Homo sapiens: one gene and its partner. The protein of the gene in region 1 interacts with the protein of each later gene in a biochemical or structural test. Each region holds a gene or a part of one and is shown on either strand. Other genes may lie near its edges. The genes, in order: KLF8 and NFIA.

Region 1 (12,633 bases):
TCTGGGAGACTGAGAAAGCCTTTCTTAAGTCTCCCTGCTGGGCCACGCTGTATTCACAGATCATCTTCAACTCCTTCTTCTTCCCCACCTACTCCTTCGCCCTCACCTCCTTGGCTTATCTCTTGCTAGAAAATGCACCAAGCTCCAATCTCCGTTCCTTTTAGCTTCCTCCCTGAGAAGACACTGTGACCTCGCTGTCCTTGTTCGTGTTACCATGGAGAGGTAGGAGGATAAATATCGCTTCCAGTTGTCAGCTTTTTTGTTTTCTCCTTTCCCTCTTAGACAGCCCCCAGCCCCAATCCCAGTACCCGTTTCACCACCCTCCCCTGGAGAATTAGCATAACCGGAGTAAATAGGTAATCAAGCAGTGTGCTTGCAAGCCTTAATTTTGGGACAGATAAGGAAGTGAAATTGATTGGAATTATACCTGCCGCTGCTGGAGGCTGAGGGAGGCGGCCGCCGGAGGCGAGGCCAGCTCTGTCGGCCCAGGGCCCCGCCCCACCCCCTCCTTCCTCCCTCCTCCTTCTCAGCCCCACCCTTCTCCACCTCCTCCCACTTTGCACTCTCCTCTAGCGGCCGCCTGTCCTTTTTAAGGAACTCCACCCTAGGTGGAGTCCTCACGATAGTCACACCTCTCCTTTGGGCCTAGCAGGGCCAGAGAAAGACGGAATCACTCTACCCACTCAGGTTGCCCAGAGAGCACTTTAGGTTCTGACTCGCGTGGGGCGCGAGGTACCCCGTGGGGCAGCTAGGTGCCTCCAAGAAACCCCGCCCCAGAGGACCCGCACGAGTTGCTGCCATTTTTCGCTGAAGCCCCTGCCCTGGGGCTGGTGTTCTTCTCTATGATTCTACCAATCGTCGGCATTTTTTTCCTCCCTTCTTTCTTTTTAGGAAGGCGCTGGGGTGTGCGGCGGCAACGGCGGCGGTGAAGGGATCCTCTTGTGGTATCTCCTCGTGGGTTCCTGTCTTGAAGGATTTCTTCTCCGCCTCAACTTTATGTTCAAGTAGCGCTTTGGGGGTTGGGTTGGTTTTCATAGCCCCCACCCCCGGCCCTCTCCTTTTAAAGGGTGTGTGGAGTTCAGAGGATGGGTGGAGAGCGGGCTTGGCCGGAACTGAATTGGTAGAGGTAAAAGGGGAACGGAGGACCTTAAGCTCTGGCCACTTCGGCCCAGCGAACCCACTTTATTTTTGTCCAAGGAAAAGCTGCAGGGGGGAGGATTCTTTTTAGGAAGTCTACTCTGCCGGCCCCTGATTTTTGGGTTGGATGCTTGAGAGCTTTGTTTCCCTTGTTCCGAGAGTGGCCCAGCTGGGTCTGAATCGACTCCCTCCCCTTTCGACCCCCTCCTCATTTTCCAGCCCGGAGAAATAGGGGAGTGGGGGCCCAAGAACGAGAAGACGAGAACGCGTCGCCCTGCGCTATGTCAGAATGGGGCGGGTGTGAGGGGAACAGCTCTCTTGCGATCAGCTCAGGAGTATGAGCCTCCCGGAGGACGGCATGAGTTCTGGACACTTCAGGAGTCCTCAGCTAGTGACATGGTCGGTAAGTGACTCTGGGACTAATACCCACCCACTCCCACCTCTTTCGTCTAGATTCTATCCCCCTCCCAGTCCCCCTGCTCCCCCCACACACCCCACTTGGGGTTTCAGCAGTGGGGGCGGGAGCGGAAGGTTAAGAACACTATGTGGAATCAAATGAAACTCAAGGGAAAATGACTTTGCTAAAGGGCTGGGCAAAGAAAGGCCAAGAAGGAGAGGAGAGAGCTTGGTGGAAGAAGTGAAAGGGGGCAAGAATGGATGGATTTGTCTAGTCTAGTCTCCCCTGGCTCGGCACTCCCAATACTCCTTAAGCGGTAAGGATTGTCTTTGACTTAACCCCACACAGCCAAAGTCACAACCAGAGAGAACAGGATTCACAAGGCCAAAGCTCCCAGGTAACCCCCTGAAGCCATAGCGGGTACCTAGAGAAGCTTCTGAAAAGAAGGAGGAGGGGACAGTGGTTTAAGGTGCAAAGTTAGGCTATTGGAGGCACAGAGTGAGGCCTGGAAGCAGCTGCGGGGGAGGAGCTGCTTTGGGCGTGCCAGCTCTTTAAGGAGGGGCTGAGCTTGGTTGGAGAAGGAAGCCAGAGCCTAGGCTCTGCTCCGGCCCTTTAAGACGTGGCCAAGGCAGTTGGTTCGTCTGTGTAGGTGGAAGACTGACTGGGCCGAGTTGCTGTGATTGCTGAAGTGAATCCATTTGTTTAGCCACTTGGCGGAGCTGTCTTTTTGTGGGCTTTTTTTTTTAACCCTAAGAATTTGGGAAAAAATAAATCACATCCAAACAGGTGGCCAAAGGCACCATGTCTTATTTCTTTTGGTATTATATTCATCGTGAAGAAACGCATTTATTAAGCACCTGTCACCCAGTGTGGTAATAATTGAGCAAAAAGAATAATCTTTAAATTTGGATTTGAAACTGATGGAGATTGCCATGGTTTGGGGTAATCTGCTTTGAAACCCTAGTATCACCACTTATTAGCTGCATCACCCTGGGCCTTGCTTTTCTCTTCCATAGAATGCAGATTAATAATTCTATCTCAGTAGATACTCGGGTGGATGAAATATCTTGTGTATGTGGCAGAGGCTGCCACTTGTATCTTAGTTCAACTTCCCTTTTCTACTCAGTTTGGAACTATTTTTCTGGACCACTGCTGATAAAATTAGTGTTTTTCTGTCCTTAAAACACCTTCCAGATGTGGTAAAACGAAACTTAGGAAGACTGAATTAGTTTGTCCAAAGGCTGAGGCTAGAACACAGGTTTTATTTGCTTCTGATTTAACATTGTTTCCACCAGACTTCATCACTTCTGAAAGAAAGGGCTACTAGCCTGCCTTTTCTCTCATTCTTTGGGCAACTTAACCAGAATGATATAACCAACAGGACTTTTGGACAACAGAAACAAGTGATAGGTAAATGACCTCATCCCATTCTTCAGAGTTATGGGGAAGCCCTTGAGAGTTGTTGACCTTTGGTGACTGCTGGGGACACAGAGAATGGGTGGGGAGCAATGTCTTCAGGTAAGCCTGGAGGGCAGACAGGCAGAAAACATAGGAAGAGTAGAAATAATAACCTCAAAAGTAAAAATGACAGGTGCATCTATGTAGTCCACCCTCAAGACCAACTTACTTAATGGCTGTACCTTCAGAGCCCTCAGGAGCTATACATCCCTCTTGTTTAGACTTTTCAGGGCACATTGGAAATTGGGAAAAAAATAACCATGTAGCAGACTACCATCACCACTCTCATTGTTCTAATACATGCATTTCTGAGGTGGGGTTCTCATTGGCTAAGTGAATTCCAATAACCAAAGTAGCAAACAGAGCCTAGTCATTTTTGATCTTGCCAGATTGTCTGTGCCTGGTGCGGTGGGGGCAGTATATGATCTTCTAAGATCTAGCTTTACAATGCCATGATTTTGTGAATGAAGGAAAACTTAATTAGGATGATTGACATAGATGATCATCTAGTATGATTACCATCTTATTGTTAAGTAGAGTATGAATAAGGGAATAACATTGTAGTATTGGGCTCATTTGTTTATTCAAAGACAGTGTGAGATCATGTTTGGTATTCTTCCTGATTTTTTTTTTTTTTTTTGACACGGTGTTTCGCCCTTGTTGCCCAGGCTGGAGTGCAATGGCGTGATCTCGGCTTGCCGCAACCTTCGCCTCCCAGGTTCAAGTGATTCTCCTGCCTCAGCCTCCTGAGTAGCTGGGATTACAGGCATGCACCACCATACCTGGCTAATTTTGTATTTTTAGTGGAGACGGGGTTTCTCCATGTTGGTCAGGCTGGTCTCGAACTCCCAACCTCAGGTGATCCATCCACCTCAGCCTCCCAAAGTGCTGGGATTACAGGCATGAGCCACGTGCCCAACCTCTTCCTGATTTTTATATGCTAATGTTTACTATCCTCAACTGAGTTTCATCATTTAGCCTGTTTCCTCATCTCTAAAATGACATGATAATTTGTGATTATAAATAATGTAAGGAAAGCATTGAACTCAGTGCCTGATATCTAATATGTTTCATAAGTTGCGGTCTCATCATTTTTGTTATTTAAAAAAATTTGTTTTATTTAAATGCTGCTGTGTGTTTGCAGAAGTGGAATGTAGATTAGTGGACAGGAAGCTGGATTTAAATATATGAAAGGTGCTAGATGTTCTGTATAATATACTAAAAGATGTTATTTGTGTATTTAGACAAAATAGATGTGATGTGGGCAAACTAAGCTCTAGGATTATTAAGGAGCAATAACCTAACTCAAGAGCCCAATCCAGATATTTCAAATCACTAGCAATTTGACATTTTGTTGTAACCTCACACTCACCATTTCTAATATACAGCCCATCATCACCTCTGGACTCTTCACTCATTCCTCATTCAAGACTCTTCCTTTCACTTCCCTGGTTCTGCAACTTACTATGACCATAGTAATGGTGAACTTATTTAAACTCTGTACTTTAGTTGTCATATCTGTGCATTGGGGATAATAATAGACACTACCTCATAAGGTTGCTGTGAGGAATAAGTGTGTTAATTTTGTAAACACTTAGAAGGCGGCATGAAAGTGAAGCAGTGGGAAAATGTAGCTGTTGTGGTACTCATGTCCCTTTCCCCTCTTCCTCATTTTCTCATTTAATTAGATGCCAATGGCTGTTGTATTTTTTCCCCTTTGTATCTGGTATCTGTTTCTTTATTATTATTCTAACTGCCACCACCTTAATTTAGGCGAGACGTGCAAACAATTAGCCTACAGACCAACTAAAGCTCACACGTGTTTTGTTTTCCCTAAAATTTAAAAACTTTCAACTAAAACATGCATTTTCAATTGGTAATGCATTCCGCCTGGCTCAAAATTCAGTATTTACTAAAGGGTGCATGGTGAAAAAAGTCTCCCTCCTATTCCTGTTCTCTAGCCACCCATTTTGCCTCGCTGGAGGCAACTAATGTTATCTATTTATTAGGAATCTCTCCAGGGATATTTAGTGTATATCAAGCAATGAGTATGTTTGTGTGTGTGTGTGTGTGTGTGTGTGTGTGTGAATAACATTGTAGTATTGGGCTCATTTGTTTACTCAAAGATAATGTGAAATCATGTTTGGTTTTCTATAGATAGATAGATGGATATATATATATATATATATATGGTTCAGTATCTTCTGATTATTCAAAAGAAACTGGAATTCTAGGAATTTAAGTGAAATCTGATTTTGAAATACTGGTTATCAATCAACTTTTAAAAGTGTGGGACTAGGCAACTTGACATACTGACATGAACTGAATTGTGACCCCCCCATCCCCCCCAAAAAAATTCATACATTGAAGACCTAATACCTAAGCTTGTGACTGTATTTGGAGATAGGGCCTTTAGGAAAGAAATTAAGGTTAGATGAGCTCATATTATATATAATACATATATAATATTAGTATATATGTAAGTACCACAACAACTATATTTTCTCACTGCTTACTTCACTTTCATGCCTTCTTCTAAGTGTTTACAAAATTAACACACTTATTCTTCACTGCAACCTTATGAGGTAGTTTCTATTATATATATATGTGTGTGTGTGTGTGTGTTTGTGTGTGTGTGTGTATATATATATCCCCTTCACCTTTTATACACAGATAGTAACACATTCTGCATATTGTTCTCTACAACTTGCTTGTCTACTTAAAAATATACTTTGGAGATATTTTCATATATGCACATTTTTTAAATGCCTCATTCTTTTTTATGACTGCATAGGTTTTTACTATATGCATGAGCCACAAATTTTTAAACAGTTTTCTGTTGATTGATCTTTAAGTTATTTCCAAACTTTTGCAGTGTTATTTGTAATAACAATAAAAACTTTTGTAAGCAGTGCATTAGAGAGCTCAGGCTGCCATAACAAAATACCATTGACTGAGTGGCTTAAACAACAGAAATGTATTTTCTCACAGTTCTGGAGGCTGGGAGTCCATGATCAGGGTGCCAACATGGTCAGATTTTCATGAGGACTCTCTTTCTGACCTGTAGAAGGCCACCTTTTCACTTTGTACTCATGTGATCTTTGTACAAATGGGAGGAGAAAGAGTGAATTCTCTCTGGTGTGTCTTCTTAGAAAGACACTAATCCTATCAGATCAGAACCTCACCTTTATGAGCTCATTTAACCTTAATTTCTTTCCTAAAGGCCCTATCTTCAAATATAGTCACTAGGTTAGGTCTTCTACCTATTAATTTTTTTTTGGAGAGTGGACACAACACAAGTCAGTTCATAGCAGTGTGTCAAATTGCCTAGTCCCACACTTTTAAAAGTTGGTTGATTGCCAATATTTCAAAATCAGATTTCCCTTAAAATTCTAGAATTCTAGGCCGGGCGCAGTGGCTCATGCCTGTAATCCCAGGACTTTGGGAGGCCAAAGCAGGAGGATCACCTGTCAGCAGTTCGAAACCAGCTTGACCAACATGGTAAAACCCCATCTATATTAAAAATACAAAATTAGCCGGGTGTGGTGGTGCATGCCTGTAATCCCAGCTACTCAGGAACCTGAGACAGGAGAATCGATTGGACCTGGGAGGCGGAGGTTGCAGTGAGCCGAGATCACACCATTGCACTCCAGCTTGGGCAACAAGAGTGAAACTCCGTCTCAAAAGAAAACAAAAATTCTTCAATTCCAGTTTCTTTTGACTAATCAGAAGATACTGAACCAGCATTCTCTCTTGGCAATAATTGCCTAGAGTTGATGAGCCTCTCCCTCCCTCCCCTTTAAAACAGTACTTGTATTTTTTGTTCACCACATTACTCATCTGGCCTAGGTGGCCTTAACCTGTCTGACCCCTAGTCTAGATATTGAGATTATGGCACCTATGTAAGCTCTTACCGCAGTACTCATAGAATATTCCAATAGCTTCTAGTTCTACTTTGATTCTTTCTGCCCTCTCTACTCTGAGGACCACTGCAAGGATATATTCCTTAAAACACTTTTAAAAATTATGTTACTCTCCTTCACTCCACAGTCATTTACTGGGTGTCTACAAAGTTGGAAGCATCATGCTAGAAGCTGAGGTGATAGTGGTAAACTTACCACTTTAGGTTAGGTAAACTATCAGTTTAGGTGGGACCCTTGCCTTCATGGAGTATGCAGTTTACTTTTCCTCTCGTCTGGATTTCCTTTCTGTTTCTTCTTGACTGTCGTAGTTCTTCAAAGCCCACCTCAAAGCAAACCATTTATTTGAAATTTTCTCTGACTATTCCATTCTCAGTAATCTCCTCCTCTCCCAATTATTGCTCATAGCCTCAAATCATAATCCAGCAATGCAGCATCTATTATCTTGTAATATTTGATTGCTATTATTTTATGCATAATTGTTTCTCATCACACGGACCTGGGATCTCAAACTTAAATCTCCAGGGCCCAGTAAAATGAGAAAAGCATGCCCTGTCTAAAGGGGACAGCTGTTGATCATCTCCAGCTAATTTTTCCCTTGTGCCAATGTACACTCTGTATTATAAAATCTCTCAGCTTTTTTAGAAAAGCAAGAAATAGGATTTTTTTCTTAAAACATGAAATCTGCATTTGAAAGGTTGTTAGATGTTTCTGTTTTAATCTTTAACATCACTATGAGAACCAGGCCAACATCTGCAGTGGGCTGCCAGTTTTCTCTATCTGACCTAGACTGCAAATTTACTGAGGATAGAGGCCAGAGACCATGAAGTTTTCTTCCTTCTGGTATTACCTCCTCCCTCCTTCCCACATAATATCTACTACAGTGTTGACTATTTAGTAGGGTCTTGGTAAAGACTTGATTATCATCAGAAAGTTCCCCTTTAAGTTAACCATGATGTCCTGTAAATGACATAGTAGTTCTACTTTCTCCAAATACCTAAATGTGCCTTTGAAGACAATTATCAGGCCAGCTTTCTTTTTCCCTGTCCCCCTTTTTGCCAGATGTAATCATCTACATTTCTTGATCTAGCTCCATTTTGTTTTCTTTTAAAAAAATTGGTTATTTCTCTAGTTTCTTTCATTTTTTTCTGCATTTCTCTTCTATTTGCCATTTTTCTTGAAATATTGTACATCACAAATAAAGTACAGTATCTTCAGAAAGGTCTACATGATGCTGAGCATATATTTAAGTTTGATTATTTGGAGCTAATTATTCCATCTCTTGTTTCTTCCTATACGTTCAATGATGCGGTTGTTTCATCTTCAGTTAGAATGGGCGGGGATGTGATGTGAATATATTTATTTCTTGTTTGTTAAACTAGTTCTGATAAATATACATAACAGTTGGTGCTAAAAGAATAATAACATACTTATTCCTTAATTTTGTAGCTAGATCCTAGAATAGATGTGTAGCGTTGAATTGGCTACTGCATTAACCTCACTTTCTGGAGCTCTACAAACTGAAATGGTCCAAGACTCTTCTAGGATGCCTTGTCTTGGTGCTCCTGAGCCACTGCTCAGGCAGTGAGTAGAAAAGTTATTCAAGAGCCAAGGTCTCTTCCCTTAAGTACCTGTTGCACAAAACATGGATGAGGACCAATTGTATTGTTACAAATTATTTGTGGTTGCCACACTACCACCATGTTTAATTTATTGGAGGAGATTGTTGCATGAAATAAAGGTATGAAGTAATGAAGAGGATCACATGAGATGTTACATAATGATTCAGAGCAATGAGTTTTTGCTGCTGTGGCTCTTTGTCCCTTAGTGCCATGCTGGAGTTGTAATTCCTAGAGGTTTTGTTTTATAATTAACATAATAATTAGTGGGAATCTTTTAATACTCTGTACATATATTCAATATTAGAGTTTGCTGCAAAGATATAAAAACACCTTCATTATTATTATTTTCAACTCTAACAAACTATTTCAAAGTACAGGGTAGTAGCAAGTACTTTAAGGAAAAAAAAAGAGCTTTGGTATCAAACATCATACCTGGATTCCAATCCCAGCTCAATAATTTACCAGTTTATGTGACCTTGGGATTATTTAATCCCATTGACTCTATTTCTTCATGTGTATAGTGGGATCAACAGTAATACCTACCTCACAGGGCAATTGTGAAAATTAAATATGTCCCATTAGAAATGCCATGAAGTGTGGCACACGTTTACCTATGTAACAAACCTGCACGTCCTGCACATGTACCTCAAACTTTAAAATTAAAAAAAGAAATGCCATGAAATGATATATCTGGGATTTGCATAAAAATATACATTGAGGTAGGGGGAGTGGGTTGAGGTACAGATGAAACAAGGTTTACCATTAGCTGAAAATCATTGAATCTGAGAGTAGGCGCATGGGGTTTTTGTCTACTTTTGTATGCATTTAAAATCACCCATAATTTTTTTTTGAGATGGAGCCTCGCTCTTTCATGCAGAGTGGAGTGCAATGGCATGATCTCAGTTCACTGCAACTTCCACCTCCTGAGTTAAAGTGACTCGTGCCTCAGCCTACCAAGTGGCTGGGACTACAGGCATGTGCCACCACACCTGGCTAATTTTTGTATTTTTTAGTAGAGATGGCATTTCACCATGTTGGTCAGGCTGGTCTCAAACTCCTGACTTCAAGTGATCCACCCGCCTTGGCCTCCCAAAGTGCTAGGACTACAGGCATGAGCCACCGCACCCAGTCATTCATAGTAATTTTTTAAATGCCATTGGAATGAGACTCAAGTTTACCTGATGGTTTGTAGAAAACTTAATCCTTCTTGACATCAATCTCACAGGTTAAGCAGAAACCTGAGATGATTATTATGGATTTTCCATCTATGTCCTTGTAATAAAATCATATATCATAGAATGTTATAAACTGGAAGGGATCTGAAAAGGACTAAGTAGTTTACTCAAAATGACACTGCTAGACAACAGTGAAGCCTGATCTAGAATACAAGTCTCCCAGATCCTAGTTAAATGATTTTCCCATTGTTTCACATGGCCTTCTTTAATAGTAAGAGTTTTATCTGCTTATTGCATATAAGATTAATTATTGTCTAAACATAAATATATTTGTTCAATGGAGATTCAAGGCAAGGGGACTGGTTCTAGGCATCTGAGATTATGTTTCTATAATACCTTTAAATCTGTTTTGTCAATTGATTCTTACAAGTATCTTGTGAGGTGAATGAGGAGTTATTTCCACTTTCTACATAAAGTGACGAGACTTGCTCAAGGTCACACAACAATTTACTGATTAAACTAGAACTAAAATGCAGGCCTGGAGTTTATTGAGCTTCATCTCCACTTGTATTTCCAGTTTTAGACTTTTATCATAATTCCTCTTAGCTTTCATCTTTTTCCAGAATGAGGAATCTTAATCTCTAGCACATTCCAAGGTAATTTTTCATTCTGGCGTATTTATTTTCTTTTTGTGGAAAAGAAAATGTAGCTTAACATCAGCGTCTGAGAGAAGCGCAACTGGCTGAAAGCACTGGAGGCTATGCAGGTGATATTGTAGAACATGAACTCATAGGAGAATGGAGATAAAGATATCAAAAATCATACATAAGTTTGTTACTGGAAATGGTTTACATCTTAAGTATGTGACCGTATTTATGTACTTTTAAAATTTTTCTGACAGAAGTAATCCTAAAAACTTATATGGCTATTTTATCTTTACATCTTATAAGATATTTTTACATGTGTTATCATGATTGGTCTTCCTAACAGCCATGAGTGGGGAGGGCTACACTGGTGTATTCCCATTTTTCAAAGGAGAAAACAGACATAGAAAGGTCAAATGACTTGCCCAAAGTTATAAATCCCTTTTCTGGTATTTCTTATCACCTTATATTTTCAATACCTTATATGACTTCACTACTTCAAGTTTAGCTGGCTGTTGTAGTAATCATGTAATACTAGATTTCAGTCTTTCTGTCACTGTCGTTCATACATGTTATGTGCTGCCAGCCTTCATTTATTTTTGTGGCAATATGTTTTCTCCTCTTAAATTCTGTTCTTTTTAACATCCTAGTTTGCCCCCACTTCCTTTTCTCTCATTCCAGGTAAGCTAAGCAGGAAAACTACAGGGGTTTTCTGGTTTGTTTGTTTTTTCTTTCTGCTGGAAAGATACACGTAAATTTAGAATTAGTCAGCTGGACTCAGTTTAGATGATCCCAATTTTGTTGGCAACATCCAAAGCATTGTAATCAGGAGCCAGTCGAACGTATGCCTTCTTCTCTCCATCAGGTCAAATCAGGGTGTTGATTTGCCACATCAGTATCATAGAGCTTCTTCACAGCCTGTTTGATCTGGTGCTTGTTGGCTTTAACATCCACAATGAACACAAGTGTGCTGTTGTCTCCTATCTTCTTCATGGCCGACACAGTGGTCAGCGGAAACTTGGTGATAGCATAGTAGTCAAGCTTGTTTCTCCTGGGGGCACTCCTCCGAGGATATTTGGGCTGCCTACAGAGTCGCAGTGACTTGGGCCGCTGGAAGGTGAGGGGTGTGTGGATCTTCTTTTTTGTGTGTGTGGTTGTGGACACCTTTCAACACTGTCTTCTTGGCCTTCAAAGCCTTTGCTTTGGCTTTGACTTTAGGAGGGGCAGGAGCTTCCTTCTTCCCTTTCCGCGCCATCTTATCGGGGTTTTCTGTTTTACAGCTACTTCTGAGTACCTGCTGTGGTGGTGGTTCTTATAATTTAGACTGGGTACCTCAAGTCACTCTCCAGCTTTTGTGTATGTTGAAACTCTTGCTTTTTTTTTTTTTTTTTTTTTTTTTTGAGACGGAGTCTCACTCTGTCTCCCAGACTAGAGTGCAATGGTGCGACCTCAGCTCACTGCAACCTCCCCATCTCCTGTGAAGCGATTCTCTTGCCTCAGCCTCCCAAGTAGCTGGGATTGCAGGCATGCACCACCACTCCCAGCTAATTTTTATATTTTCAGTAGAGACAGGGTTTCACCATGTTGGCCAGGATGGTCTCGATCTCCTGACCTCATGATCCACCTGCCACGGCCTCCAAAAGTGCTAGGATAACAGGCATGAGCCACCACGCCCGGCCCAAAACTCTTGAATAGAAAAGTCATACAGAGCTGCCTGCTGAGGTGCTACAACTGGAAGGTGAGGTTGAGTTTTCCAATGGTGACAGGTGTGAGCCTGTTTGGGGGAAATGAGATAAATTGGAGGCTTTTGCAATCTCCCTTTATTAAGTAGTTGGTTTATAGCAACCATTTATTCTCTGCTATGGAATCTGCTTAAAACAGAAGCTGGAAGATCCTACTGGTACCCAGGTAATTTCATTATAGCTGCTTTATGTCTCCAGACTACTGAGGTTTAAATCTCCTCTCTGCTGTTTACTAACTTGGTGATTTGGTGGTAAGCAACTTCATCTCTCTGTGCCTTAGTTTCCTCATTTTTAAATTTCATTCAATTCAATTTAATTTTTATTTTCTGTTTTTGAAACAGGGTCTCTCTGCACCCAGGCTAGACTGCGGTGGCACAATCATAGCTCACTGTAGCCTCTACCTTCTGGTCTCATGTGATCCTCTTGCCTCAGCCTCACACAACAACATGCCTGGCTAATTTTTAAATTTTTGGTAGAGATGGGGTCTCACTATGTTGCCCAGGCTATTCTCAAACTCCTGAGCTCAAGTTATCCTCCC
Region 2 (12,633 bases), on another chromosome or scaffold:
GTAGATTGCCTGAGCTCAGGAGTTCAAGACCACGCTGGGCAACGTGGTGAAACCCCATCTCTACTAAAAAAATTCAAAAATTAGCCAAGTGTGATGGTAGGCACCTGTAGTCCCAGCTACTCGGGAGGCTAAGGCAGGAGAATTGCTTGAACCCAGAAGGTGGAGGTTGCAGTGAGCCGAGATTGCGCCACTGCACTCCATCCTAGGTGACAGAGTGAGACTCTGTCTCCAAAAAAAAAAATAATAATAATAATGCCCGGTTGGCAGGGGCCTACGTGGTGAAGAGGGAGGTCAGTATGGACACTCAAGGATTGTAGGTCTAAGTGAAAAATAGCATCTAAAGGGAGATGGCCCCATAGTTCTAAGCTTCTGGGTTAAATCTCACAGTCTGAAATTTAAGTAAAGGCAGGAATTCACAGTATGTTTGGTCAGCAAAGACTATTTGTCTAGGTCTTTAAAGAACTTTTATCTTTACTTAGATATCTATGGTATCTATGATTATTAGGTCAAGATTGTTGCTACTGCTGTTGTTGCTTTTACTTTTCATTTTGTTGTTTGTGGAATTATTTTCAAGGCCCTCATGTCATATCCATGCTGATAGTATATACTATTTTATCAATATTTATGTACTTTTTTGTCCAAGAGACAGGCGAGCAACAAGTACCTCTTGTTCCATCACTCCTTTCTTTCATGTATTCTACAATCAGAACAGGTCCTAGCACACAGGAGCAAATTTCAATGTATTCATTGCCTATCCCATTCTTGTCTATGATAGTACTATCATACTACAAAAGAAGCTATTGATCACTTAATTGTGTGATCAGAAACTGTGCCGTGTGCCTTATATACATTGTCTCATTTAGTCTTCACAACAGCGCTATGAGGTATTATTAGCCCCATTATACAGATGCCAAAACTGAGTTGTAGAGAAGCTCAGCAACCTGAAGCATAGCTCGTGATAGAGCTTAGAATTTAAACTCATGTCTATCTGACTCCAAAGCCCTGGTCCTTATATTATACTGCACTGCTTTTCTGAGTCGTATGTTTAACTTAGAATTATATACGCACACACACGGATGTGGTCAGCCAGCACAGACCAAGGCATATTAAGTAATGGTGAAGACAGACAATCAAAAGTCTACCGTGGAGAGTTAATGAGATATCAAAGGTGACCAGATTGCTTTGGAAAGCTTCAGAAAGCTGAGGTGGAATTGGTATTGACTGTCAGGGGTCTGACTCACAGAGCACAGCAGGTGCTTGGAGAGTGAACAAGAATTTTGTGGGTCTACACCAGGGACTGGAAAACTATTGGGCCCACAGATCCAATAGCCCTTTGCCTGTATTTGAAAATAAACTTTTATTGGAACACAGCCGCGCTCATTTGTTTATGTAATGTCTGTGACTGCTTCTGCACTGTAGCAGCGGAGTTCAGCAGTTGCAACAGAGACCATATAGCCTGCAAAGTCTAAACTATTTAGTATCTGGTCTTTACAGAAAATGTTTGCCAACTCCTGGTCTAGTCAGGGCCTTGAGCAACAAAGGTCTTGAAGTAGCTAAAATTGATCTAGATAAAAATTTTAAAAGACTTTGGCCTTCTGTTTTCTTGTGTGGGTCTTTCTTTTTCTTTCTGTTTTTCCAAAAGACATTAGAATTTGATCTCTTAGAAAATCCCCTGAATTCAAATGGAATAGACTCTATCAACCATCTTGGAAACTAACCGTGGCATAAAGTTACTTTGTCTGGTAGCAGTAATACAAAAACACTGGTGTTTTGCAAGCTGTCAAGCCATGTCATATATTTCTCTCAATTGACATATCTGGGTCCTTTCACGTGCATCTTCGTGATGTTAAAAGATATGTACCATATGTTTTGAAAAACCTTGGCTCACCTCGAGTCAAAAGCTTTGTTATTTAGAAAAGGCATCACCTCTTAAAGGTTTGAAAAGCATTGCCAATTCTTCTTTCCTGTATCTCTGTTAAAATAAATCCCTTAACTCCAAACTTCTCAGCTTTCATCAATGGCAGGCCTGATTCATGCATGATTTATAAATTAGGGCTATGGACCATTAAGATAGATTTCTCAGCTTTAGGTGGGGTATAATGGTGTTATATAGTGTGGTTTTGAATTTCTGAAGAAGCAAGATACATAGTAGTTGACAACCCAAGCCATTTTTATGTTCTATTTACCCTTATGGAAAGCTTCTTTTGTTTTTTAAGTGGGATTTTTTTCTTCGATTTTCTTTTCCTTTTGAAGCTTTGCCGTATTACAAATTTTTACTTCTAATTATGAGTAGTCAAGAGTTCTTAATGCCACCCTTACGCTATGGAAGTGGTAACTTTCATCTAAAGAACATCTTATTTCTGAAGACAGATAAGAAGGTTTTTCTTATAATGGCGCTAACAGAGAAAAACTGTTTGGAATCTCACCTGTTGCCACTGCCTTTGTATTCATTAACACTAAGACTGTGAAGTTTTGCAGATGCCAGGGCTCAGGAGTGATTATTCGCTCTTGTGAGGGAAGAAGCCTGTATATAACACTGCCTTAAGAGCACACTGTGCCTGAAGGAGGATTATATTTTATTGTTTGTGTTGCTCTCTTGACAGCTTTTCTTTGGAGCCTCCCATAGAAGAGAGACTGGGATTTAAAGGCTGATGCCAGAAAGCAAAAGCTAACGTGAAAAGAATCCAAGTCTCTGTCCAGTGTGTGAGAATCTGCAACGGTTCATGGACAAGGAATAAAACAATTAAGGCAATGTCAGGGTTATAATACAGAAGAACATATTTCAACCCATAAAATTTTGGTTTGAGGGAAAATGTGTGAGAGTTATTAGAGTTCTTGGAGGATGAGCTTGAGAAAAACTACTGGAAATACTAAGAGATTACTTTCTTCTTCTATCTCTTTTTCTTCCCTAAGACTTATAAAAGCAGAAAAATGCAAGATTCCAAGCTTGTCTGGACACAGCTCCCTGATACCATCCTATTTCATATGGCCCACGCTTAGATTTTCTAACTAGTTCTGACTCCTCTTAAGAGCACTCTTATGTGTCTACAAGACCTCCTCCCCATAGTGGACTCTCAGACCAAGAATCACTGGTTGTATTATAGAAGTCTTGCAACATATCCAATAATACAATAATGATCCTGACCTTCTCCTTTCTCAGTCTTAATAAATTCTGCTTTTAACGGAAGAAGCATTTTTGAGTTAAACATGTATATGTATTTTTTCAATTGTTTGAATTTTTAACTTTTTCTCCTTTAAACTAAAACCAAGAGAGGATTTTTAAGAACTGGTGGGCTGCTGGACTGGTGGGGAGGGAATGAACAAGTAAACCAACCTGACTGACCTGCTTTCGTTTTTCAAAGTATCCAGTAATATGATCATTTTGTAATAAATAGCTGAGTATTACACCCTTTGGGAAATTGTGGCTCTCTGTTTCTTTTCGTTGTGGCTACTTTGTTCAGGATGTGTAGGCAGTGCCATTGCAGCCAAAGAAACCTGATCAAATTTCCTTCCTTCCCATCTTATTTATATTCTTTGTGAAAAGCCCAAACAGTTGTTTTAAACAAGTCTGGCCACTCGTTAAAGTTTAAACTAGTAGTGAGATCCATCAGGAGTGAAGTGTTTCTGACACTCTCTGCTGCTCCTGGCCTAGGGTACTAAGAGTATTAGATGCCGGAAGCAGCCAATTTTGTAGTGTCTTTTAATACACAAAATTGTATTAACATCAATGTGGATACAGATGGATGCACTGCAATAAACTGTAACCACTTGAGAAAAGCCTTTATTGACTCTCAAGTAAATAATGCACATTTTAAAGGATCTAAATATGCATTTACATAATGTGCTATAATTTTTTATGGTGTCAACTACTCACACACACACATCCATAAGACATGTTTTTCTTCGTCAAAAATCTGGACTCATACCATTCTTCGTGCATTCCATTAGCATCATGCCAAATTCATAATGGTAGTTTTTTTCTATAAAGCCTGATCTGGCCACCTCAAAATATAGTTGATGAATTTTACTCTTTAATTGATTTAACCCCAGTGGCTCTTTCTAAAATGATTTGAGACAAATAAAAACTTAGGTACAGTAAAAACATCCAAGATGAAGAGAGAAAACAAGAAATAGGAGAGAAGAGAAACAAAGTTAGGCAGGCATTGATGACATCTTAATTCTGAGTTTCAGTGGGTTTCATTGTCTGGTAGAAGAGGAATAGCAGGTTATCTAGAGAAATAGCATCTATTTAATAATAACTAGAGCTTTGTGATGTCAGTAACGTAACTATTTTCTGTTTGAAGAAATGAAGGTTCAGGATCTCGAATGATTTCTCTCCAGTTGCACAGTGAACTGATGACTGAACCAGAAAGTCCAAAGCATGAGAAAGTAAGGGTTGCAAAGGATGACCCTTTAAAATGCAGACTCAGCAATTGCCCAATTTGAAACTACAGGCTAAATGATTTCCTGGTATTAATTAAGAATTAATTGATTCTTATAAATCAGTCATTGTAGAATTAATTCCATATAGTACCATATGTTCTTGTGTTTGTGTTAAACTCTGTTCCACAAGGAAATGGTGAATAAATTGTTTTTAGTAAAATAAAAAACGAAGGTCTAAATTTAAGTTGCTAATGATTGTCTTTTACGTATTTAACAACAACAAAATGAGGGAAAGGATGTTTATAACAGTTAATGAGGAGATGACAGGGTGCTTTTGAGTTATTTCTTCTATCTCATTTCTTTAAAGATCAGCTCTGCTTGATCTTTGCTCAAGTGAATTTCTTTTTTGGGCAGCATTTTCTGTAGGCCACCGTGATTTCATAATCTAACAATTACCCATCACTTTCCATTGAGCACCTGAGGCAGCGGCACTTTATCTTCAAGGTCAGCCTACCAGGGGCTCTTGTCAGCAGAATTGGCACCTTTGTGTTTGGCATTCTGCAAAAGTTGAGTGTTTCGTTTTGTTAGGCTCAGTATATTCTCAGCCTAGTTTGGGAAATATCACATTCTGTCCTTAACTAGTGACTATTCCATCAGACGCAGGGTACCGAGTACAAGTTTTTTGCCACCAGCAAGGAGGACTGTACCATGTTGGATGAAAAAATTCCTTTGATTCTTGAAAGCCAATGGCATAATTTGCAGAGTAAGAGATGACCAGAGCCATTTAACTTTTTAGCTTGTGGGTTTTAACAAGCAACAACAATAGATCCCAAGATTTATCATTCATTGCAGGAAGTCCTAAGTTTTACTCATTTTTCTTTTTTTTTTTTTTTTTTTTTTGAGACGGAGTCTCCCTCTGTCGCCCAGGCTAGAGTGCAGTGGCGCGATCTCGGCTCATTGCAAGATCCGCCTCCCAGGTTCATGCCATTCTCCTGCCTCAGCCTTTGGAGTAGCTGGAACTACAGGCACCCACCACCACACCTGGCTAATTTTTTTGTATTTTTAGTAGAGATGGGGTTTCACCGTGTTACCCAGGGTGGTCTCAATCCCCTAACCTCATGATCCGCCTGCCTCAGCCTCCCAAATTGCTGGGATTACAGGCATGAGCCACCGTACCAGGCCAGTTTTACCGATTTTTCTAAAAGCTCCCTGGCTCTTGACCAGGTGGAGAAACCAAGTTTTGGTTTTAGCAAATTTTATTCTATGTTTAACGGTATGATTATCTTATTAACCTCTGTTTATTCAGTCATTCACTGCACATTCAACAAATATTTATTGAGTGCCAGACTCAGTTCTGGGGATATTGCAGTGGGTTGAAAAGGTATTTACGAAGATGGAGAAGGCTGGGAGAAGTGTAAGCTTGAGAGGAGAAGGTAATGAAAATTCTGATTCAAATAGGTTATGTTTGAGACATCCTCAATTGTATGACCGATGGCAAAATTTCATCTGTTTTGGCTCAGATTTGTTTCTTGAGCCCATAGTAGGAGCCTATGAATATTTATTGGGCAGATTAAAGATTGCATAAATTAAAGGGTTGCACCAGACCACCTGCAAGACATGGATTGGAAAGTTGCTTCCCCTCCAATCGCCCATTTCCAGTCTTTTTGAAAACTACAGATGTCACTCTGAACCCCATAGCATGAGCCATTTCAGTCATTAGTCAGAAAGTGCCCCAATCATGAGGAGATCCCGGTAGGGAACAAAGAACCTATGCCCAGCAACTAATACAGATGCATTCTTTTTCACAGCCTTTAGCCATGCAAGTGGGATAGTGGTAGAAGTGATGGCCTGTCTTACTGAGTTTCTCTTCAGTATTATGAGTCATTCTTGGTATTGGAAAGGTCTTATTTTCCAAAATGTGGACATTCCTGTGATTTTCAGTTTAAAGATTTAAACCGAAGAAAGGAAAGATAAATACTTTCATCTCCTCTAATTTGGGAGAGGTTTCTCTGGCTCTCATTGAGAAGCAAGAGCTGCTGCTATCTTGGCTTGACTTGGTTTGAATATCTGCAACCTTCCCATGCACTGCTCTTATCCTCCAGCCAGTTTTATCAATCATCCTTCTAATTCAAGGGCAAAAGTTCTCTTAGAGAAGTTATTAGGCACCTCACATAAGTTTTTTTAATCTAATGTAATCTTCTTGTTCACATGAAATTTACCAGGGTTCAAATGTAAGGGAGCAGTAGTTGTCTGAGTCTTTTATCAGTTTTTATGGGCACAGGGCCAACATTTTAGCAGGGGTCACTGCCTGCTTACCCTGTGGGTTCCCCTGCTGTAACATATGTGCATTTCTGAGTTTGTCTTTGAAATGGCATCTGAAGGCGACATAAACCATCCGTGTAAAGTGAGGCACCCAAATTGCATGGGCTCATTAAGTGATCATTTACTACATACTTCAAAAAATTTTCATCCTGAATTAGTCCCTAGAAATTTCCTTGAAAGGGGTATAAGAGGTTTAACAATGAATTATTGTCTATGGATAGCTCAGCGTGAAAGGGGATCCATATGTGCAAACTAGAATTTGTCATATGTAATGTCAGTTAAGTCAGGTCTAATCTACCAAATACATTTTTTATTGCTTGCTTCATTAAAAAGGCTCTTAAGGTAATGAATAATCTTCAGCCTCACCAAGGATTATTAATGCCTTTATAACTCATGTCCACTGAAAATAGAAAGACAGCTTGAAACTCTACCCTAATCTAACCTCCGTGTTTGTCTTAGAGCCTTAAGGAAGAAAATCTGTCAGACCTATCCAGTGTTAAATTCAGTCACATGAGCAATATTGTGAATCGGGCCAGGAAGAGAAATAAAGGAGGAAGTTGAATCGGGTTCAGCTATGACAAAGCAGGTCTTTCTTTTCATAACCCTGATGTTTTCTTTTCCTGCAGCAAGTCCGCATGCAACACCATCGACTCTTCATTTCCCGACATCACCCATTATCCAGCAGCCTGGGCCTTACTTCTCACACCCAGCCATCCGCTATCACCCTCAGGAGACGCTGAAAGAATTTGTCCAACTTGTCTGCCCTGATGCTGGTCAGCAGGCTGGACAGGTGGGGTTCCTCAATGTAAGGAAACCTCTTTTTTTCCATTTCTTTAGAAATGTTAGCCGAATATAAAAATAACAAGGGGAGACCTTATGATCATGTGACGTTGTGCTCTAATGTTGTGCTGACTGACTGCAGGCAAATGTCATATTTATTCTAGATTGTGGGAAAGTTAACTTGGTCTAAGAGTGATTAGTCAGGGTTTAAAAACAGTGTTTGTGTTAAGTTTGCAACTGTCAAGTTTATGGATATAAATCAGCTCAAGGGTGAACTATATAACCTTCTAAGTTCTGTGGGCTGATCATTCCACCTCGTGCATTCTAACCCCAGGGCTCATACAGTTAACAAAATAGAAAGACCAAGTAGTTTTAAATAATGATTTGGGGTGGTAGAGAAAGGTAGGGAGATGAAGGGGACAGATGTTTCAGATCAACTAAGTTGATATTTTTGAAAAATACAGTCTTGTAACACTTTAGATCAAGTTGACCAGTACTTGAACTCAAGATGCTGAAAGTACAGTTTATTATGGTTTGTTATTTCTGCAAGTCATTATCTTTCCCACTTATCTTGGTATAAAGCTAAACAGTGTTCAATAGCTTCACATGAATGTTTTTATTTTTCCTCAAATAAACCAAATAATCACAATTTGAAATGGCATTCCAAATGTAAAAGTGATTTTTAAAAATCAGAAATTTTATTTCAAATATAGGATTAGATGTTTACAGTGGAAAGCTGTATCTCAAGGCCAATAATAATAAACAACGACCAGCATAAAGCCAAATTTGATTTTCCTTTTCTACTAATAACTGTGCATGAAGTCACAGACTAGCCATAATTATTACTGGCCAATTTAGGATAGTATGTCACACCATCCTGTCACCGATTTTTTTCACTTGCAGAAATACCTGATTCTGCATATCTGCGCCAGAACAGGCAGCTTTGACTAATGTCTGGTGATGTGTTAGCAGATACATTTCTGTCTAGACAACAAATCAATATGGTGCCTCTTTTCTTTTTGCTTGTACATTCATTTGCTTGGCTTATTCTAAAGCATTCACTTATGGACTCTCAGCCCACTCAGAAATAACGCAAAGGCAAGGTTGCTGGCAAGAAAGCACAGCATTCTGATCGTCAGACGAGGTAGTCTTTGAGGAGCAATACTAAATATATAAGTACTAAATATATAAGTAAATGTTGATGGGGGAGTGAGACTGCCTCTGTAGAATTATTAAGCTTAAATGTAAAAGCCTGGGACAGCAGAATCTCCTTCAACCGAATTTTGATTGGGGACTAAATGTGAACTGTTGTCGTTGGTTGAATAGAGGCCTCTTGGGAAACAATGAAAAAACTGAGCTGATCACCAGCATCAAGCATCTGACTTCTAAATTATTAACCATTTTTGTAATAGTCCTGACACCCTATATAACTGTCAAATGCCCAGTTTTGCATTTTGATCAGAATTTTATAGGACTTAAGGCAGGTCTCTTCATGAAACTATTTTGAAAAAATTGAAAATAAAATGGGTTTTATTGCTCTCTTTGGAGGGGAATTTTTTGTTAAAGAGCTGTTATTTGGTTGTTTTAACATCAGGCAGCAAAATAAATATGACTCTTATGGCATATGCTTATATAATTTAAATCAAAATTAGAAGTGATATTTTTCCCTAGCAGACTTCTGACAGCTGAATTCTAAAGTTTCTGTGCCTGATGTTATACAATATGTGAACAAAATTTTCTATGTTCACTTAACACATTTATTAAATGTTATATAATATCAACTTTGAAGAGTGAAAATAAAATATTACTTTTTTATCTCAAGTGCATATTTAGGAAAATTTATTCTATCTATGTAAAGAAACATAGTGGAATAATGCCACAGTCCATAAAACACTTAGATATTAAATATTTAATAATCATGAGAAAGATAATGAAGGTAGCAGTTAATACAGAAAAATACAAAAGATTCCAAGCAAAAGTTGGTTACTCAGGGGACAAATCCAAAGTGATAATTGGCAGGTGATTTTATGAAACCAGATGCAAAGAAGGACAATGTAGTTCAAGAGATAAGTTTAGGATGCATGGAGCACATGTGGCTAAGAGTACTTTTGTGAAATGCCTTAAGAACAGAACCCAACAATGGACATTTCCGTATGGGCTTATGGAAGAATTGAAGCAGCTAGATACTTAGTAATTTACATTAAAGGTGCCTGATGAATATTTTGTTTTCAGAAGCAGCTAATGGTTGCTGTCTCTTTCTTCTTTTTCTTGTACGTGTGTTTTCTGCCCCCCCCCCCCCCACAGCCCAATGGGAGCAGCCAAGGCAAGGTGCACAACCCATTCCTTCCCACCCCAATGTTGCCACCGCCACCGCCACCACCGATGGCCAGGCCTGTGCCTCTGCCGGTGCCAGACACAAAGCCTCCAACCACGTCAACAGAAGGAGGTGCAGCCTCCCCCACGTCACCAAGTAAGTATGGCTGCGACAAGGCGCCGGTCACTTCTAAAGCTGTATGCACTGGAATCCACACTTAGGCTTTGTCCCTCACTGTATAGGCTCTAGAAAGAGGCACAGATCCCCAGTGATGTTGTAGCATGAGTTTGCCAGACCGAGAATCAAAGTGAACATGACTCTTGGGTACTCCACCAGATGAGGAAAACACTGGGTGTTGGGTGGATGAGATGGTGTAGCTACATACCTAGGACTGAAGTCAAGTTATGAGCTATTACATTTTGTATATTATTTGAGGGATTTCAAATGCTATTCCCATCATCAAGCAGCAGCTACTTACATGGATTCTGCTTAGAAAAAGTTCCTCATTCTTACAGACAGCCCTGCCTTCCAGGAACTTGCAGTCTAAGAGAAATGCACTTGAAAGTTATATACCTCATACATCAAATAGGAGAAAATGTCTAGATCAAAGCACCAACTCAAAGGTGTGTACACTGACCATTCGCTGAGAGTAAGAGCCTGGCAGAAGATCAATGCTAGTAGCCCTGGCAGTCGCATGGTGAGGTTTGGCAGAGGTTGGGGTAGGGGCTGGGGTACGGAGATAGAGGGGAGAGTAGGATGGAAGGAGGAGAGAAGTCTTGGCTCTTCTCTGAACAGTCTGAGAACATTTAATCAAAGAATATAAGATTTCACAACCCTTTTAGATGATGGGAATGATTACTTGAACTAGAGAGAGAGTAATTCTCCAGATATTCCCTGATGTTTTAGATATGGCAAGGGGATAGAAATAGTTTGAATGCACAAATGTGCCTTTTATTAGTGCCTGGAATAATGACAAAAAGAGTGATGGCTGGAGTTCCTAGGTGATGGATGCCCTAGCCTTGATAGATGGTGTGATGAGCACCTTCCCTAAAGCTGTAAAGAGGCAGCAAAGTATAAGAGAAGGATAGGAGCTGTGGCAGTGTGACCCTAAGGAAAGCCTTCAAGGGGGTTGTCAAAAGAAGTGAGACTGAGGCAAGGAATCTACAGAGGAAAGGATGTAAGAGCAGCATAGGAAAGGAGTGTTAAGGCCAAGAACTTGAACCACAGTAATAGGTGTAGAATGGAACGGGACATGGTGGGGAGTGTTTTGTAGACATAAGCATCGGGATTGGACAGTCCTCTGGATGAATGCGGTGAATGAAGATTCTAGGCCTCTCAGCTTCCTTACCTTCAGTATTGGAATAATAATGATAGTGAATACAGGAGGGAAAGAGACAAAGAAGAAAACTGAGCCCCTGTTTATGCCATGTTCATAGAATTTGATTCTGGGGGCACGGAATCCAGATGGCTAGAGGCCCTCATGGACACATCAGAGAGTGAGCTTTGGGTTATCCAGTATTTATGCATTTTGATAATATATGCAGAAATGAGCAGCACTGTGCATAGATTCTGTATCAATAGCCAAAAGATTGAAGGTTCAGGGGCAATCTAGGGAAGACCTACTTCTCTTGGTAAGAGGTGATTCAACACTTGTCAACAAAGGAGAAAACCCTCAGTGTCCAATGACAGAGAAGCAAGCTGGGCTTGGCCCATGGATCTTAGAAGCTCAGCTTAGAAGGAAAGCCTCTGCTTCTCAGAGGTTTGAGGCTTGTTCAAAGATGTCACATAAATACACAATAAGTGCCCTGCTCGTTGTGTATTTATGTAACATCTTTAAACAAGTCAGAGAAATAACTGCCCCAGACTCTACTTACATCTGTTCCTTGAGGATGTTGGCTTACAGATTATGCCTACTGTGCCCTGTCCATGCCTCTGCATACCATTTTCTGCTCGTCTTCTCTCTGTCTGTGCAGGACATTGCCACAGTCTTTTAAAAGCTGCATAGTAATATGCAATCAATTCCGTGGAAACAGATCCTCACCTCCACTCTCAATGGCTCGTGTGTCCTAATGAGTTTTTCAGTAACGGGAATGAGGCTCTGCTGAGGCACAGCAGAAGAGTGGAAATAGTAATGTGTGGCTGTTCAAGTCTAAAGGATGGGGGCTCAAATGCCCACCTTTCAAATTACTAACTGTGTTTCTCTTTGAATCAATTTCCTCTTCTATAAAATGTAGATGATAATATCTACCTGGCATGTTTGTTGTGAGATCAGTTCTGATCATTGGAGTATTTTATTATCTGCCCAAACTCTTACATAGTGGAAGACTCCAGGCTTGGGTAATGGTAAAATATATCTGTAGGACTTGGAGAAGCTACTCAACCCCTAAATTGAGTTGATGCCTTTGGGTCCACAGTTCTAGACTCCACTCCGTGGATTGAACCAAGTGCTATGTATAAGATGATACCTATCATCCTCTTGTGCCCAGCCTCAAGCATCTTGTCAGCACTAAGGGGCAAAGGGCAGAAGGAGTCTTGGCAGATCCAACTCATATGGTTGCATGTTAGAGCAGCACTTAAGATTTGGGGTGGGGTGGGGGTGAGAGAATATCAGGAGAAAGAGTCCCAGAGCTTGATACAGATAATTTGATACTTACTTTTTGAATCATGGGATTCTAGAAATATAGACAAAACAAAATGTTCTACCGATGACACAGAAAGGTTTTTATCATCATTCATTTTAGCCCTTGTTCAGCTAAAGGCTTTTCTAGGGTATGATGAATTCATAGTAATATGTAGTTTCACAGCATACTATTGCTTACCATTTTCTGCTTTCT

What was found.
Region 2: the proteins of KLF8 (region 1) and NFIA form a complex in vitro, tested with the Homo sapiens proteins (one study listed by BioGRID).

The regions. Positions count from the first base shown.
Region 1 is NC_000023.11:56,231,802-56,244,434, forward strand, and holds the start of KLF8 (Krueppel-like factor 8), read left to right. Parts: upstream 1-554; 5' UTR 555-1,474; coding exon of another isoform or gene 1,475-1,533; coding exon 1,534-1,540; intron 1,541-11,088; exon of another isoform or gene 11,089-11,611; intron 11,612-12,633. UniProt on the Homo sapiens protein: Transcriptional repressor and activator. Binds to CACCC-boxes promoter elements. Also binds the GT-box of cyclin D1 promoter and mediates cell cycle progression at G(1) phase as a downstream target of focal adhesion kinase (FAK).
Region 2 is NC_000001.11:61,396,773-61,409,405, forward strand, and holds part of NFIA (nuclear factor 1 A-type), read left to right. Parts: intron 1-7,331; coding exon 7,332-7,510; intron 7,511-9,789; coding exon 9,790-9,955; intron 9,956-12,633.